Linked DNA regions of Homo sapiens: region 1 is linked to region 2. A link means that fine-mapping ties the variant in region 2 to the expression of a gene that starts in the linked region. Tissue or cell type: skeletal muscle. Region 2 holds a variant in brackets; the other region holds the start of a gene. All regions are shown on one strand. Distances are from middle to middle.

Region 1 (8,139 bases), 49 kb after region 2:
ATTTGTATTTATAATATGTAATTACATACATATATCCAGGTTTTCCTGCCCTAAGGCTGTGGAACTGCACTATAAAATAGTTACTAGTCGCATGTGGCTATTTAAACTTTAAATTTGATTTAAAAAATTCAGTTCCTTATTTGCACTAGCTGCTTTTCATGTACTTGAATTGCAAAACAGTGCAGAAACATTTCCATCAGCAAAGACACTCACAGCCACCCTCTAGCAACGTGCTAGTCCACACAATGGAACTAGGCATTAGGGCCTGAGCTGGTTGATTTGCCTGTGACTCCAAACACTTTCACAGATAACTTGTGTTCTTGAAGGGGATGGGAAAGAAATTACTATTTCTTGAGCATCCACCATATATTATATCCTATCTTGTCTCACCTTTACAAGAAAACTACAAGAAAGATAAAATCCCTTTTTAACAGATAAAAATATTTACATTCTGAGAGTTTACACAGCTTGCCCAAAATCACACAGTAAATGGCAGGGCTGATTCAAACCCAGTCCCAACTTCTAACCTCAGACTCCTCTTTAGCAGTAAATTGCCTTCTTTTGAGGAATTTACTTTCGGACTTTGAGGCAATGTCTCCCGCTTCCTCCCTCCATCTATAAATCTCACCTTTTTCTTCAAGCATCTGGGTCAAATCTTCTATTAGGGTCACCACTTCCTCACTACTCTCAGGATGTTGTGACTTTACCCAAATCCTGATCTCCCCAGGCAAAATGGTCAGGAACTGCTCAAACACCAGAAGCTCTAAAATCTGTTCTTTCGTGTGAATGTCTGGTCTCAGCCACTGATTGCAGAGCTCCCAGAGTTGACTCAGAGCTTTCCTGGGTCCAGCTACTTCTGAGTAACAAAACCACCTAAACCTCTGTCTGAAAGACTCTGCATCAGCAGCATTTCCTCTTAAAATAGCTTCTTGTTCCCCAGAAGTAACCACTCTTGGGACCTCATTTTGTTCAGTCGAGGCCAGAGTTTGAGGTTCTGGTGAGATGGCTGTCATCTTGTTCAAGGGCACTACAGCTTGCATTGTGTCTCAGGGGCAGGAATCCAGTCCCTTCACACTCTAGTTGAGTATCAGTACAGTCCACCAACAGGCACTATACACAGCCAGGAATATCAAAGGTTCCAGGAATCCAGTTTACAGTCCTGCAGAAACTGTCAAGAAGAAATATTAAGGCATTAAATAAGTAAAAAAACTGTTGTTAGTCCTAAAAACATCGTTCTTGGTTTGGTTCAGAGAAATATATCCACACACATACCAGCAAAGGCCTAGAAAAGCCCTGCTCAATTAAAAGGATAACTTTCTTTCTTTTTTTTTTTGAGACGGAGTTTCGCTCTTGGTGCCCAGGCTGGAGTGAAGTGGTGCGATCTCGGCTCACTGCAACCTCTGCCCCGGCTGGGTTCAAGTGATTCTCCTACCTCAGCCTCTTGAGTAGCTGGGATTATAGGCGCCCACCACCATGCCTGGCTAATTTTTGTATTTTTAGTAGAGACGGGGTTTCGCCATGTTGGCCAGGCTAGTCTTGAACTCCTGACTTCAGGCGATCCACCCACCTCAGCCTCCCAAAGTGTCAGGATTACAGGCGTGAGCCACTGTGCCCAGCCATAATTTTCTTTATAGTCAAAAACCAGGGAGCTACTTAAGGGTTAAGGAAACAGTTGCTTTAGATTGAATACTCCTCCTAAACAAAATGTTATCAGAAAAGGTTCACAAGGGGACCCAGTCACAAAGCTATTTAACAACTCCTACCCTTTCTTAATGAAAGGGCACACATTTCTCACTAGTTGCTCAACTCAGAAGCCCAATTTAATATTTGACTTTCAAATTTCTCTTCCTCCTTACTTCTCCCATCAATCGCCAAGTTCTGGCGATTTTATTTCCTAAGAACCTCTCCATTCTATCCTTCTGAAACTGCCTAAGTACAGGGTTCTTCACTCCAGTCTCACACTGTGGCCAAAAAATTCCTTCTAACATGCAAAATATGATCTTATCACTCCCCGGCTTACAGTCCCTCACCAGCCACCGAACTGTCTCTCGATAAAGTTCACATGCAGGGACCATGGCATTGTGATCTAGAGACACTGTCTGATGACCTCACCTCTTGAGCTCTAGCTACCCGATTGACACTACAGCCATAAATTAGTATCTCCTCTCTCTCTACATACTCTCCTAGCCTTTGCACCAAGGCTATTCCCTCTCCTCGGAATGTTGCTTTCTTTCTCCTACCAAACTTTTATTCGTCTTTAAAGCCTGACTCCTTTCAACTGTCACTTCTGGTGTGATGCTCTGCTTGATCCCAAAGCACTCCTTTGCACACAGACTGCCCTGTGTTGCATTCATTCATTCATTCTATAAGTGACGGAGCAACTACAATGAGCTGGAACGAGACCAGGGGCCATGAGCTGCGGGGCCAGGCGTGGACAGGCCTGAAAGGGTCCTCACGCTCACAGAGGGTCCAGGAAATGACAATACAGCCGGAGCGGGACTACAATGCGACAAGTGAAGGATGTGACAGCCTCGCATTGCAACTACCATACCAATAACAACCCACTTCCGAGTACAGCGCCCGGCACACAGCAGCATGACGTCATTTATTCCTCTGCCAAATATTAGGCGCCCACCACGTACCTGGCGCCGTGCTGAGCACCTGGGGCTCCGCGATGACTAAGACACTCGGCTCCGTCTACAGGGAGTTTACATAGGAGGCCCGGTGAAAATGTGACGCAGCCAGAGGATCTCAACCAGAGGGAAGAAAAAAGGAGAGATTTCACCCCCCAGCGGTCCTCTGGCAATGTCTGGACACATTTTTGGTTAGCTCGACTAGGACGAGAGGTGGTACTGTTATCTAACGGGCAGAACCAGTGACGCTGTTAAACATCCTGCCACAACGGGAGAGCCTCCCCCTCACCGCCACACCACAAACAAAACAAGGCATTATCCCGCCCAAAATGTCAACAGTGCCCAAGTGGCGCAGGGAGGGATGGAGGGAAGCCAACAGCCCCATCCCGCAGCGGAGTGCGCACCTCCCACAGAAGCAGCAGCAGCGCAGCGCACAGCCCGTTGGTAGGCTGCTCCCGGCCCCCATCCCGCCCCAAGTGCGCCCTCGGAGCCGGCGACCCGGCCACGGCCCCGAAACTCGGGGCCCGGGACGACCAGTACCTGCATCAGCATCCGCAAACAGCACCAACGCCACCGCAAAGAGCTTCCAGAAGCTTGTCCCGCAGCGAGTGCGCGCGCAAGCCTGCGGGAACCACTGCGCCTGCGCAGAGGCGCTGAACCGGACTCCCCGAACGCGCTCGTGCAGCTTTCCGAAAGTCCGCGCTTTCCATAGGCTCCCACCTGCCTGTTGCGCATGGTCACTGGGAAGCGGCTAGTGGGCTCGGCTGCAGAATTATTGCTGCGCCAGAGGCTCAGAGGCCTAGAATCGTATGAGGTTTGCAGATCCAGGAGGCTCCATCTGTTTAGTAACCTCAGACCTTCCCTACCCGCTCCCATCACTTCCATTCCCTGAAATCTAAGGTGGAAAAATCCACCGCAGAAGCATATTACCGATGCATTTAATGCAAGCCATAATTAATGCCACAACTTGAGTTAAACACATATTAATCTTATGACTTCCACACCTGCCCCCATGGTCCAGTCCACCCTCATGGCTCACCTGGATTATTGCAATAGCTTCTTGATTATACCTTACTTCTCTTGGCTATTCTCCACAGCCAGACGGACGTTTTAAAAACGTCAAATTATGACCCTCCTTTGCTTAAAACCCTGCAATGGTTTCCCATTTCACTCAGAGTTAAAACCCAAGTCTTTATAGTGGCCTACAAGGCCTGATGGAATCTAGCCCCTGTAACCTCCCGCACCTCTTCCCCACTTTCCTGCTCCAATCTTGATAGACCCCTTCCTCTTCTTGTAACCTGCCAGGTACTTCCGGCTGACCTGCTCCTTCCCTAAGTGGCCATACGGCCCGCTCTCTCATCCCTTCAGGTCTTCTCAATGAAGCTCTCCCACCATTCCACTTAAATAGGAATCCCACCTTACTCTTGTTTCCTCTTCTAACATGCCCTATAGGTTTGTTAATTTTTTTTTTTACTACTTGTCCGCCTTCTCCAGTAGAATACTAATTTCAGAAGAGTAAGTATTTTTATTTCATTTGTTCTAGGTTGTGTGTTTAGGTCCTGGAACAGGACTTGGCCCATGGCAGGCACTCAATAGATATTTGTTGAGCTTATGAATGAGTATTTGCATGGATTATTGGGGGCATTGCAAAAAGGGCCAAAGAACTCCAGAAAAATTGTTTGGAGGGTTCTAATAACTGGATGATCCCTGAAGGGGTGGAGTTAGGAGAGAAAGACTAGATTCATTCTAGACTGAAGGAGCAAGGTGATTCAAGGCCCTGAGACTTCAAAAGGGCAGAGCAAGCTCAACTAAATGAACCACTCCTCTCAAAAGGAGTGGGCTTATCACAGGCAGCAAGTCAAGCTGAAGAGACAGGGCTGAGAATGGCCGGGCGCGGTGGCTCATGCTTGTAATCCCAGCACTTTGGGAGGCTGAGGCGGGTGGATCACCTGAGGTCGGGAGTTTGAGACCAGCCTGACCCACGCGGAGAAACCCTGTCTCTACTAAAAATACAAAAAATTAGCCAGGTGTGGTGGCACATGCCTATAATCCCAGCTACTCGGGAGGCTGAGGCAGGAGAATCACTTGAATCCGGGAGGTGGAGGTTGTGAAGAGCTGAGATCAGGCCATTGCGCTTTAGCCTGAGTAACGAGTGAAACTCCGTCTCAAAAAAAAAAAAAGAGAAAAAAAAGAAACAGGGCTGAGAATGAAGACAAAAGTTTTCTCAGTCCCGAGTCCCATGGCATATTCTCCTTTACCCACCTCCCCTTGGCTGGCTTTAGACGCATCAGGAAGAAGCTGGAGAAGGCAAAGGAATAGGAAATGTCTATTGGCTCATTATTTTAACCAGGCAAGTCAGAGGCACTTTACTTAGTAAAGCTTACTCAAGCTTTACTGTACTTTAGAATCACATGGTGTTCTTTATTTGAATACAGATTTTGGAACCTTCTGGCCCTCCCCACCCATCAACTTGTTGCAGGTGATCTTGTATTTTGAGAAACACAGTACTAGTTGAAATATTCTGTAAGTAAATGACATGCTACCTATGAATAAATTACCAGGAAAGAATGGCATCTTTTTGGAACTGGTAGTCAAACTATAACTTTTGATTAAAAGTAACCATCATGGTAAGGAGTGATGGACTGTGCATCAGGAAGGAAGCAGGAAACTACAAATCAGTTCCACTGGTAAGCAAGCTGGTGGGATCTCTAAACAGGAAAACATACTTAGGAGAACTTTAAGTGAGCTGTTTGTTTGTTCGTTTAACTGTTCTGGTTTCAGTATGGACAGTAGATTAGAAAGAAGTAACACCAGAGATAAAAAGACTTTGTCTTATCATAATCCAGGTAACATGATGGTGACATAAAATGAAGGTGGTTTAAAAGGTGATGGAAGGGCCGGGCTGGTGGCTCACGCCTGTAATCCCAGCACTTTGGGAGGCCGAAGTGGGCGGATCACGAAGTCAGGAGATTGAGACCATCCTGGCTAACGCGGTGAAACCCCATCTGTACTAAAAATACAAAACTTAGCCGGTCATGGTGGCGCCTGCCTGTAATCCCAGCTACTCAAGAGGCTGAGGCAGGAGAATCACTTGAACTCAGGGGGGCAGAGGTTGCAGTGAGCTGAGATTGCGCCACTGCACTCCAGCCTGGGCGACAGAGTGAGACTTCATCTCAAAAATAAAAAAAAAAAAAAGAAAGAAAGTAGAATCCTACAGTACATATTCTTCATATATTATGACTTCTTTCATTCAACATTATGTCTGTGAGATTTATCAATATTGTTGCATGTGATTATACAGTGTTTATTTTCATTGCTGCATAGTGTTCTCCTATGATTTTTTTGTGTGTATTTGTTTTTTTTTTTTTTTTTTGGAGACGGAATGTCGCCCAGGCTGGAGTGCAGTGCAGTGGTGTGATCTCAGCTCAGCTCACTGCAATCTCCACCTCCCAGGTTCAAGCAATTCTCCTGCCTTAGCCTCCTGAGTAGCTGGGATTACAGGGGCTCACCACCACACCTGGCTAATTTTTGTGTTTTTAGTAGAGATGGGGTTTTGCCATGTTGGCCAGGCTGGTCTCAAACTCCTGACCTCAGGTAATCTGCCCACCTTGGCCTCCCAAAGTGCTGGGATTACAGGGGTGAGCCACTGCTCCTGGCCTGACCTGTTATTTGTATTAACATTTCCTGTTTTCTTAGACCCTTGCCCAGCCTCTGTTCCCGTACACAGAGTTGGGGAGGAAGTATGTATGATTGTTTGTGTATCTGAAGGGGAGAGTCTGTCTAATTTTCCTGTCTTCTTTCTTTTTTTCTTTTGTTTTTTTTTTTTGAGACGGAGTCTAGCTCTGTCACCCAGGCTAGAGTGCAGTGGTGCGATTTCGGCTCACTGCAACCTCCGCCTCCCGGGTTCAAGCAGTTCTCCTGCCACAGCCTCCCAGGTAGCTGGGATTACAGGCGCCTGCCACTGCGCCCGGCTAATTTTTGTATTTTTAGTAGAGATGGAGTTTCACCATCTTGGCCAGGCTGGTCTTGAACTTCTGACCTCGTGATCCACCCGCCTCGGCCTCCCAAAGTACTGGGATTACAGGCGTAAGCCACTGCGCCCGGCTTCCCTGTCTTCTTTCTAGACTCACTCCACTTTAAAGAAACTGAAGACCCAAGGTCCTGCCCACCCCTCCCCATATCCTATTTTTTCAAAAATGAGACCCAGCGCAGGGAGGGGCTTGCCCAAGGTCACTCAACTGGTAGATTGGAAACTGACTGGCTCTGAGCCCAAGGCTTTTAGGAGAAAGGAGCACATCTTCCCCATCTCTAGAGGGAGGAGGACAGGCTGGGACTCTGATCAAGGATCTAAAACAGGTGTTTTAAAACTAGTTGTTAATTGCCAAACTGTCCAAAAGAAATATTACAGATGAAAGAGGTGCATTCCTGATTGAAGTCCTGGCTTCCCCACCTAGCAGCTTTGGAGTTATCTCCTTAAGACCCTCAGGGCTCTTGTGCATCCACTTTGGAGGCCTCTGAGCTCTAAAGGTTTGAGCTGCCTCAAGGACACCAAGTCCTTGTTTCCAGGTGCCTCCAGTCCTGGTTTAACTGGGACTCCAAAGATCCCAGAGCCACTCTAGGGGAGCTGACCCTCTCCTGAAAAGAAATAACAAAAAATTCCTCCTGCCTGGCTCTGTAGAGCCACAGAGGGTGGTATGTTCCAGAAAGAAAGAAAGAAAGAAAAAGAAATAGCAAGCAAGTGAGCTACGAAGCTCCCGTAAGGATCCACTAGAGAGAAAGGGGATGAAGACAGAGAGTGTGGGAATATGCTGTAGAGTGAAGACTGAGAAACTAGGGGGAAGCACAAGTGGAGAAATTAGCTTTAAACTGCCAGAGCCAGCATGCAGTGTTCATTGTAATAGCAGGGAAGGAGGCAAAGAAGGGGGTAGATGCAGTTGGATTTGGAACTGGTATCTAATGGATCCTGCTGAGATCCACTATTGGGACCTCCCCAGAAGGGAGATACGGGTGGGATCTGAAGCTTGATAAGAGTAGATTAGGTTTGGCCGGGCGTGCTGGCTCACACCTGTAATCCCAGCACTTTGGGAGGCCAAGGCAGGCAGATCACGAGGTCAGGAGTTCGAGACCAGCCTGGCCAACATAGTGAAACCCTGTCTCTACTAAAAATACAAAAAAAAAATTAGCCGGGCATAGTGGTACGCGCCTGTAGTCCCAGCTACTTGGGAGGCTGAGGCAGGAGAATCACTTGAACCTGGGAGGTGGAGGTTACAGTGAGCTGAAACCACGCCATTGCACTCCAGCCTGGGTGACAGAGCCGAGACTCCATCTCAAAAAAAAAAAAGAGTAGATGGCTGCTGGGAGAATATGAGTTGATCACAAAAACACAGAAGGATTTCCCTGCAGTGTTAAGGGCCCATTTGAGGTTAGAAACCCCCATTTTATGTTACATCAATATGTACATTAAATGATTTTTCTCAAGGTACACAACATAGCTCCAGAATAGGTA
Region 2 (8,000 bases):
GTATTAGCTTATACTTTCTGGCTATGAAGTATAATGTTACTATGAACATTCATGCAGAGGTTTTTGTGTGGATTTTTCATTTCTTTTAAGTATATACCTATGAGTAGAATTGCTGGGTCATATGATAATTTCATGTTTAACATTTTGAGGAGCTGTCAAACTGTTTTGCAAAGTGGCTACAGTACTTTACATTCCCACAAGCAGTGTATGAGGGTTCCAACTTCTCTACATACTCACCAACACGTGCTATTGTCTGTCTTTTTTATTATAACCATCCTAGTAGGTTTGAAGTGATATTTCATTCTGATTTGAGTTTGACTTGCATTTCCCTATGGCTAACAATATTAAGGATCTTTCAACGTATGTATTTGCCATTTGTATATCTTCTTTGGAGAAATATCTGTTCAAAATCTTTGCCCATTTTTGAACTAGGTTATTTGTGAGGTTGTAAGATTTTTTTTTTTTTGAGACAGTTTTTTGCTCTGTCATCCAGGCTGGAGTGCAGTGGCGCGATCTTGGCTCACTGCAACCTCCACCTCCCGAGTTCAAGTGATTCTCCTGCCTCAGCCTCCCGAGTAGCTGGGATTACAGGCATGCACCACCATGCCCAGCTAATTTTTGTATTTTAAATAGAGACGGAGTTTCGTCATGTTGGCCAGGTTGGTCTCGAACTCCTGACCTCAGGTGATCCACCTGCCTTGGCCTCCCAAAGTGCTGGGATTATAGGCATGAGCCACCACACCTGGCCAAGAGTTCTTTACATCTTACCGATACAAGTCCCTTATTAGATTCAGTGGATTTTCATTATTCACAATATTTATGTTCTATAAGGTCACCACCAAGGCTGAAAACCATTGCTTCTAGGGGAAATATGTACATGTTTGCACATATCTCACATAGACTATAATCTGAAATCCTTAAAACAACTCATCCTAGTAGCTTTTATTTTATGAAAGACAAAAGGAGGTTCAGAAGTGTTAAGTAACTTGCCTATGGCCACTCCACTAGCTAATACCCCCAGAGTTGGGATTCATACTCCATCCAGCTCTTCCCCGAACCAGAGCCTCTTGAACTGCACTGCAGTGGCCCCATCCTCTGGTCATCTCTGTGTAACAGTTGAAACAAGAAGGCAGAGCATGGTCTTATTCAGCCTCAGAGAACATCTGCATCTTTTTTACTGCTCCATGTATGTCTGCAAGTGACCAGGGAAAGCTTAGTGAGTACTGGTTTGAGGTTACAAATAAAATTTTAGCAAGTAGTTTACAATATGCAAATATGAAATCCACTAATAATGAGGACCAACTCTATATGGCTTGCAAATATTTTTTCCTATTCAGTGAATTGCCTTTAACCTTCTTTCTGTTTTTGTTTTTGCCCTTTTTTTTTTTTGAGACTCAGTCTCACCAGTCTCACTCTGTCTCCCAATCTGGAGTGCAGTATGTGATGACAGCTCACTGCAGCCTTGACCTCCCAGGTTCAAGCCAACCTCCTGCCTCAGCCTCCCAAGTAGCTGGGACCACAGACATGCACCATCATACCCAGCTAATTTTTATGTATTTTTTTTTTGTAGAGATGGAGTCTCACTATGTTGCCCAGGCTGGCTTTCACTTTCTTGATGGTATTCTTTGAAGCATGAAAGTTTTAAATTTTGATGAAGCCCAATTAATCTATTTTTCTTTTGTTCCTTGAGCTTTTGGTGTCATGTCTAAGAAGGCTTTTCCTTTCTCAGAGTCATGAATATTTATTCCTGTGTTTTCTTCTAAGAGTTTTATAGTTTTAGCTGTTACATTCAGGTCTACGATGCATTTTAAGTTAATTTTTGTGTGTAGTATAAGGAAGAGGCCCAATTGCATTATTTTCCATGTGGAAATCCAGTTGTTCGGCACGTTTATTGAAAGGACTATTTTTCCTCTATTGAACTGCTTTAGCACTTCTGTAGAAAACCAATTGATCCTAAATGTAAGGGTTCATTTTTGGACTCGTGATTCAGTTCCATTGATCTGTATTTCTACTCTCACACTATCTTAATTAATTTAGCTTTGTATTAAGTTTTGAAATTGAAAAGTGCCAGTCTTCCAACTTTGTTCTCTATACACCTTTTGAGTATTTTTCCATACCTTTAAATTATAAGACAATGAGGTTATTGGACTGATCAGAGAACCTCAATATATAATAAAGGAAAATGTATAAGTTATAAAAGGTATGGTCTTAGAATCAAATGAAAAAGCCTGTTTATTTATTTTTCTTTTTTTCTTGAGATGGAGTCTTGCTCTCTTGCCCAGGCTGGAGTGCAGTAGTGTGATCTCAGCTCAATGCAACCTCCGCCTCCTGGGTTCAAGCAGTTCTCCTGCCTCAGCCTCCCAAGTAGCTGGGATTATGGGTGCCCACCACCATGCCCTTCTAATTTTTTGTATCTTTAGTAGAGACAGGATTTTACCATGTTGGCCAGGCTGGTCTGGAACGCCTGACCTCAGGTGATCCACCCACCTCAACCTTCCAAAGTGTTGGGATTACAGGTGTAAGCCACCGTGCCCGGCCGAAAATGCCTGTTTCTAATGTCTTTTTCTAACTGCAGTCTTCTGCACTGTTGGGCTAATTCAGTCAGTTTTGTTGCTGCTAAAACAGGTATTGTAAAATAATGCTTGTGACTTAATGATTCTCCTGAATCTCTAGTATTTAGATTATTTAACATTTTGTCTTTGCTATCTGTTTAGGTAGGTGGAGAGTTTTCAAACACTGTTATCGGCCAGATGAAGAAATTTGGAAGGATTGCCATATGTGGAGCCATCTCTACATATAACAGAACCGGCCCACTTCCCCCAGGTAATGAGCACATGCACACGATCCCATATGTCACAAGGCTGGACAAGGAGAAAATTCACAGATATGCCATAGGCCAGTGACTCTGAAATTATTAGAAAGATTTTCATATATTCTTTTTTTTTTTTTTTTAAGACAGAGTCTCACTTTGTGAGTGCTCAGGAGTTTGAGACCATCCTGGGCAACATGGCAAAATGCCGTCTCTACAAAAAATACAAAAATAAGCTGGGTGTGGTGGTGTACACCTGTAGTCCCAGCTACTCAAGAGGCTGAAGTGGGAGGATTGCTTGAGCCTGGGAGGCGAGGCTGCAGTGAGCTGTGTTCCTGCCACTGCACTCCAGCCTGGGTGACAAAGTGACAGCCTGTCTCAAAATAATAATAACAAAAACAATAACAAAAGAAATAAAAATATATATAATTTCACATATTTTGTGCTAAATCAGCTTATATTAGATTTTTATGTAGAGAAACAGCAAGATCTACAAATATAAAAGAAACAGTTATTAAAAGTTTTAGTTTTTACCTATCATTTAATGCAAAACTGTAAAAAGACAGTGATGATTTGATTTAGAAACAGAACACCTTGGTCTGGCTGGTAAAATATTCAGGTTCCTCTGGATATTAGAGACATTGCTGGAGGTGCGAGAGGAATAAAGTGTGACTTGCTGTGGGTGAAGGGAAGAGCAGACTGCCATGCCCTTCAGAAATCTTGGGCAGTGCTTCTTGGAGCAGTAGGGCGTCTTGGCCTCAGCAGGCTGACAATTGCCACTAAAAGGGAAGGGAGCAGCAGCTTCCCTCCATTCCTTGATTGTCCTTGTTTTATTTCTCTGGTGCCCTGCCATGCGCTCCATTCCCCACTCCCTACTCTCTTATGCTGAAACCACATCCCTCCCGCTCCACACTCTGAGGTCCAAAAGCAGTATCAACCAGAGAACCATATTCATTAAATCCCAGTCCTGTGAGATGCCTTGTACAGGCCTCTCATTTTATGGGTGTGGAGAGGAATGGCCAAGAGGACCAGAGACTCTTTAACTCCTATTGGCAACAGACTCAAAACAAAGACCAGTCTTCTAAGCTCCTCATACAGAGTCTGTTTCTGCTACAGTGATTCTGTGCTATTAAGAGAGATCACAAATTACCTATGGTCCCCCC[C/G]CAAAAAAGGAGAAAGTACGAGAAAGTAGGAAAAAAAGGAATCTTCCAGACTCTAATCAGGATCCAGGCAACCATAAATCAATGGTTATTTATTCTATGATGAGCTTGACTAATGGGAATGAAACCTTATAGCCCCACTGGTTAACCACCACACAACTGTATGGAGATGGGGGGGCTAGAAAGGAAGGGGCTGACAAAGGGCAACTTGTAGATTCCCTCTCAGGTTGTGAAAAATCAAAATCATTACCAAGAAGGAAACTCCAGATTTACTTGGCAATCTTATTGTTAGGGACTTTTTTTTCCCCCTATAATTTTCTAACTGGTGCTAAGCTGGAATCATGGGAAATTGTCTGCCTGCCAACTGAGCAAAGCTGCAGGAGGCCTTTTCTTAACCACAGTCCGATTAGGAATAGCCAAATATTTTGGATACAGTAACTCGATCTAGTCTTTTTAGCAATTAGTCTTTGGAAGCTCAGCTGCTCAGACAGGACTTTGAGATGTCAGCTGGCCTTGTCCGTTCCATTTTAATCAGATGGAATTCTGCCCTGCCACAGAGCCCCAGAAATTCTAACATATTCCACTGTTAGGATAGCTCAGAGGCAAGCAATGATTTCCTCCAGGTTTAATGCTACATATGCTTTTTTGCTCTCAGTAAAAAAACAAAAACCAACATTCTCATCAACACGCACAAATCCAGAAACAGCATTTCACTTTCATTTTGCTTTTTTGTTTATTGGTTTGTTTGTTTTGAGACAAGGTCTTGCTCTGTTTCCCAGACTGGAGATTTTTTTTTTAATTTTTTAATTTTTTTTTTTTTTTTTTTTTTTTGAGACAGGGTCTCGCTTTGTTGCCCAGGCTGGAGTGCAGTGGCGCAATCATGGCTCACTGCAGCCTCCACCTTCTGGGCTCAAGTGATCCTCCCACCTCAGCCTCCCGAGTAGCTGAGACTACAGACATGTGCCACCATACCTGGCTATTGTTTTTTGTTTTGTTTTGAGACAGAGTCTCACTCTGTCGCCCAGGCTGGAGTGCAATGGCACGATCTCGGCTCACTGCAACCTCTGCCTCCCCGGTTCAAGCGATTCTCCTGCCTTAGCCTCCTGAGTAGCTGGGATTACAGGCACAAATCGTCACGCCTGACTAATTTTTTTTATTTTTAGTAGAGACAGGGTTTCACTGTGTTAGGATGGTCTTGATTTCCTGACCTCGTGATCTGCTCCCTTCAGTCTTCCAAAGTGCTGGGATTACAGGCATGAGCCACCATGCCCATCCCACTTTCATTTAAGATGAGGAAATGAGAGTTCCAATCCCTAACTCACAAAGAATAGTTGATGTGGGTCTTCTGAAGAAGCACTCTTTCTGTCTCATTCTCTTGCATTAGTTTCTTTTGGTTCAGGACAAAGCTTCATATTTCCAACTGCTAATGTTACTTTCCTCAAAGTAATCAGTGGGAACTTTAGGCTGAGTGGTGCCAGTGGTCAAAGATGCTGAAGCTAGATTCCACCACTCGTCTTAGCACACCAGGCATCTTCGCCTGACTTCCTGGAACTTGAAAGCCTATGCTGAGGTGTCATTCTGTCAGTTTCTAGTCAATTAGGACACTTGGGAAAATCAACCAGGCAACCAAAAAACTTTTTCTTCCTTACACGCAGAAGGGTAGTATCTTCTTTACAGGCTGCAGGAGAGCTGTGTGCTTTTTCTGGGGTGCTGGTTTTCAAAGTGTGGGCCAAGGACCAGCAGCATCACCATCTCCTGGGAGCTTGTTAGAAATACAAATTCTTAGCCAGGCGCAGTGGCTTATGCCTGTAATCCCAATATTTTGGGAGGCTGAGGCAGGAGGATCGCTTGGCCCAGGAGTTTCAAACCAGAGCAATAGAGTAAGACCTCATCTCTGACAGAAAAAACAAACAAACAAACAAACAAACAAAAACTAAAAAAAATTAGCCAGGTGTGGTGGCATGCACCTATAGTCCCAGCTACTTGCAGGGCGGAGGTGGGAAGATCACTTGAGCCAAGAGGTCAAGGCTGCATTGAGCAGTGATGGCACCACTTTACTCCAGCCTGGGGAAACAGAGCCAGACCCTGTCTCAAATTAAAAACGACAACCACAAAACACACAGACACAAAAACACCCACATGTTTATTCTTTTGTTTGTTTACTTCTTTTTTTCTTTTTGAAACCGAGTCTCGCTCTGTCACCCAGGCTGGAGTGGAGTGGTGCAATCTCAGCTCACTGCAGTCCCCTTCCGACTTCAAGCGATTCTCCTGCCTCAGCCTCCTGAGTAGCTGGGATTACAGGCATGTGCCACCATGCCCAGCTAATTTTTGTATTTTTAGTAGAGACAGGGTTTCACCATGTTGGCCAGGCTGCTCTCAAACTCCTGACTTCAAGTGATCTGCCTGCCTCGGCCTCCCAAAATGCTGGATTATAGGCATGAGCCACGCACCCGACCCCACACACTTATTCTTGTAGGTCTAGAGGTTAAAAGTAAAATGGGTTGGCAGGGCTGCATTCCTTCTGAAGATGCTAGAGGAGAATCTGCTTCCTTGCCTTTTCAAGCTTCTAGCAGCTGCCTGTATTTCTTGGCATGTGGCCCCTTCCTCTGTCCTCAAAGCCAGGGGCATAGGCTCTTCCTCCTCCTCCTCTCTCTCATCTCTGCTTCTATCACCCCATATTCTGTCCCTGACTGTAACTTTCCTGTATCCCTCATTCCCTTACGAAGACCTTTGCTGTTATATTGGGTCCATCTTTATAGTGGAGAATAATATTCCCATCTCAAGGTTCTTTTTTTCTTTTTATTTTTTTGAGGCAGAGTCTCATTCTGTCACCCAGACTGGAGTGCGGTGGCACGATCTTGGCTCACTGCAACCTCCACCTGTCGGGTTCAAGCAATTCTCCTGCCTCAGCCTCCCAAGTAGCTGGGACTATAGGCACCCGCCACCATGCCCAGCTAATTTTTTTTTTTTTTTAATTTTTAGAAGAGACGGGGGTTTCACTATGTTGGCCAGGCTGGTCTCGAACTCCTGACCTTGTGATCTGCCCGCCTTGGCCTCCCAAAATGCTGGGATTACAGGTGTGAGCCACCGCGCCACCCCCAAACTTCTTAATCATATCTGCAAAGTCCTTTTTGCCATGTAAGGAACAGGTTCTGGGGTTTTTGGATATGAACATGTTTGGGGCCATTATTCTGCCTGGCTGCAGAGTGCATGTTGATTGGCCAGCAGTCCCGTGGATCAGAAAGGAGTGAGGAAATGGAAGGGGAGAAGCACCAAAAAACTCCCAGCACCAAGCACAGTGACAGTGACCTGTACTGCTTGTTTCACCATGGGCACCTCCCTGGATCCTGCCACCCAAATGTGCCCTTCTCTTCACAGGCCCACCCCCAGAGATTGTTATCTATCAGGAGCTTCGCATGGAAGCTTTTGTCGTCTACCGCTGGCAAGGAGATGCCCGCCAAAAAGCTCTGAAGGACTTGCTGAAATGGGTCTTAGAGGTAAGGAGCTCCGGAGCCACCCCTTCCAATTGTACACTAGGTCACACTCCCTTTGCCTCTCAAGGCTTTTGTTCTACCAATTCTTCCCCATCTCTGCCGCATCGTCAGTTTTTCCCTATTGGGTCATTGTGCTTAGAGTATAAATATTCTTACTTTTCCCATCTTTGAAAGGAAAACAAAACAACCCTCTCTAAAGTTCATTTCCACTGCAAATGCAGGTCCATTTCCCTTCTCTCCCTTTTATAACAAAATACCTGGAAGTGCTGTCTACACTCACTGTCTGCCATTCCTCTCTTTCCATTCTTCCTTAAACCCACATATGAGGCTTTTCAGAGTCTCACTCTGTTGCTCAGGCTGGAGTGCAGTGGCACAATCTCAGCTCACGGCAACCTCCGCCTCCTGGGTTCCAGCAATTCTCATGCCTCAGCCTCCCGAGTAGCTAGGACTACAGGTGTGTACCACCACGCCCAGCTAACTTTTTGTATTTTTAGTAGAGACAGGTTTTCGTCATGTTGGCCAGGCTGGTCTCAAGTG

Evidence for each region. PIP is the estimated chance that this variant, and not a neighbour inherited with it, causes the effect.
Region 1: ZNF483 starts here. The variant in region 2 is fine-mapped to the expression of ZNF483 in skeletal muscle (GTEx, PIP above 0.99). The same link has a PIP of 0.9 or more in subcutaneous fat and sun-exposed skin.

Annotation. Positions count from the first base shown.
Region 1 is chr9:111,520,297-111,528,435 of GRCh38, reverse strand. It overlaps ZNF483 (zinc finger protein 483), which reads right to left and starts at 3,257. Exons shown (of 6, transcript NM_133464.5): 1 at 3,174-3,257; 2 at 629-1,168. The coding sequence starts at 1,040. RefSeq lists enhancers at 2,094-2,593, 2,705-2,904 and a silencer at 3,005-3,354.
Region 2 is chr9:111,569,557-111,577,556 of GRCh38, reverse strand. PTGR1 (prostaglandin reductase 1) reads left to right here. Exons shown (of 10, transcript NM_001146108.2): 8 at 2,715-2,823; 9 at 7,348-7,466. It also overlaps a transcript of ZNF483 not described here. Among named protein-coding and RNA genes, the nearest start is that of PTGR1, 26 kb to the left of the region's middle. RefSeq lists enhancers at 4,535-4,704, 6,625-6,794. The variant C/G (reference allele first, on the strand shown) is at 3,973.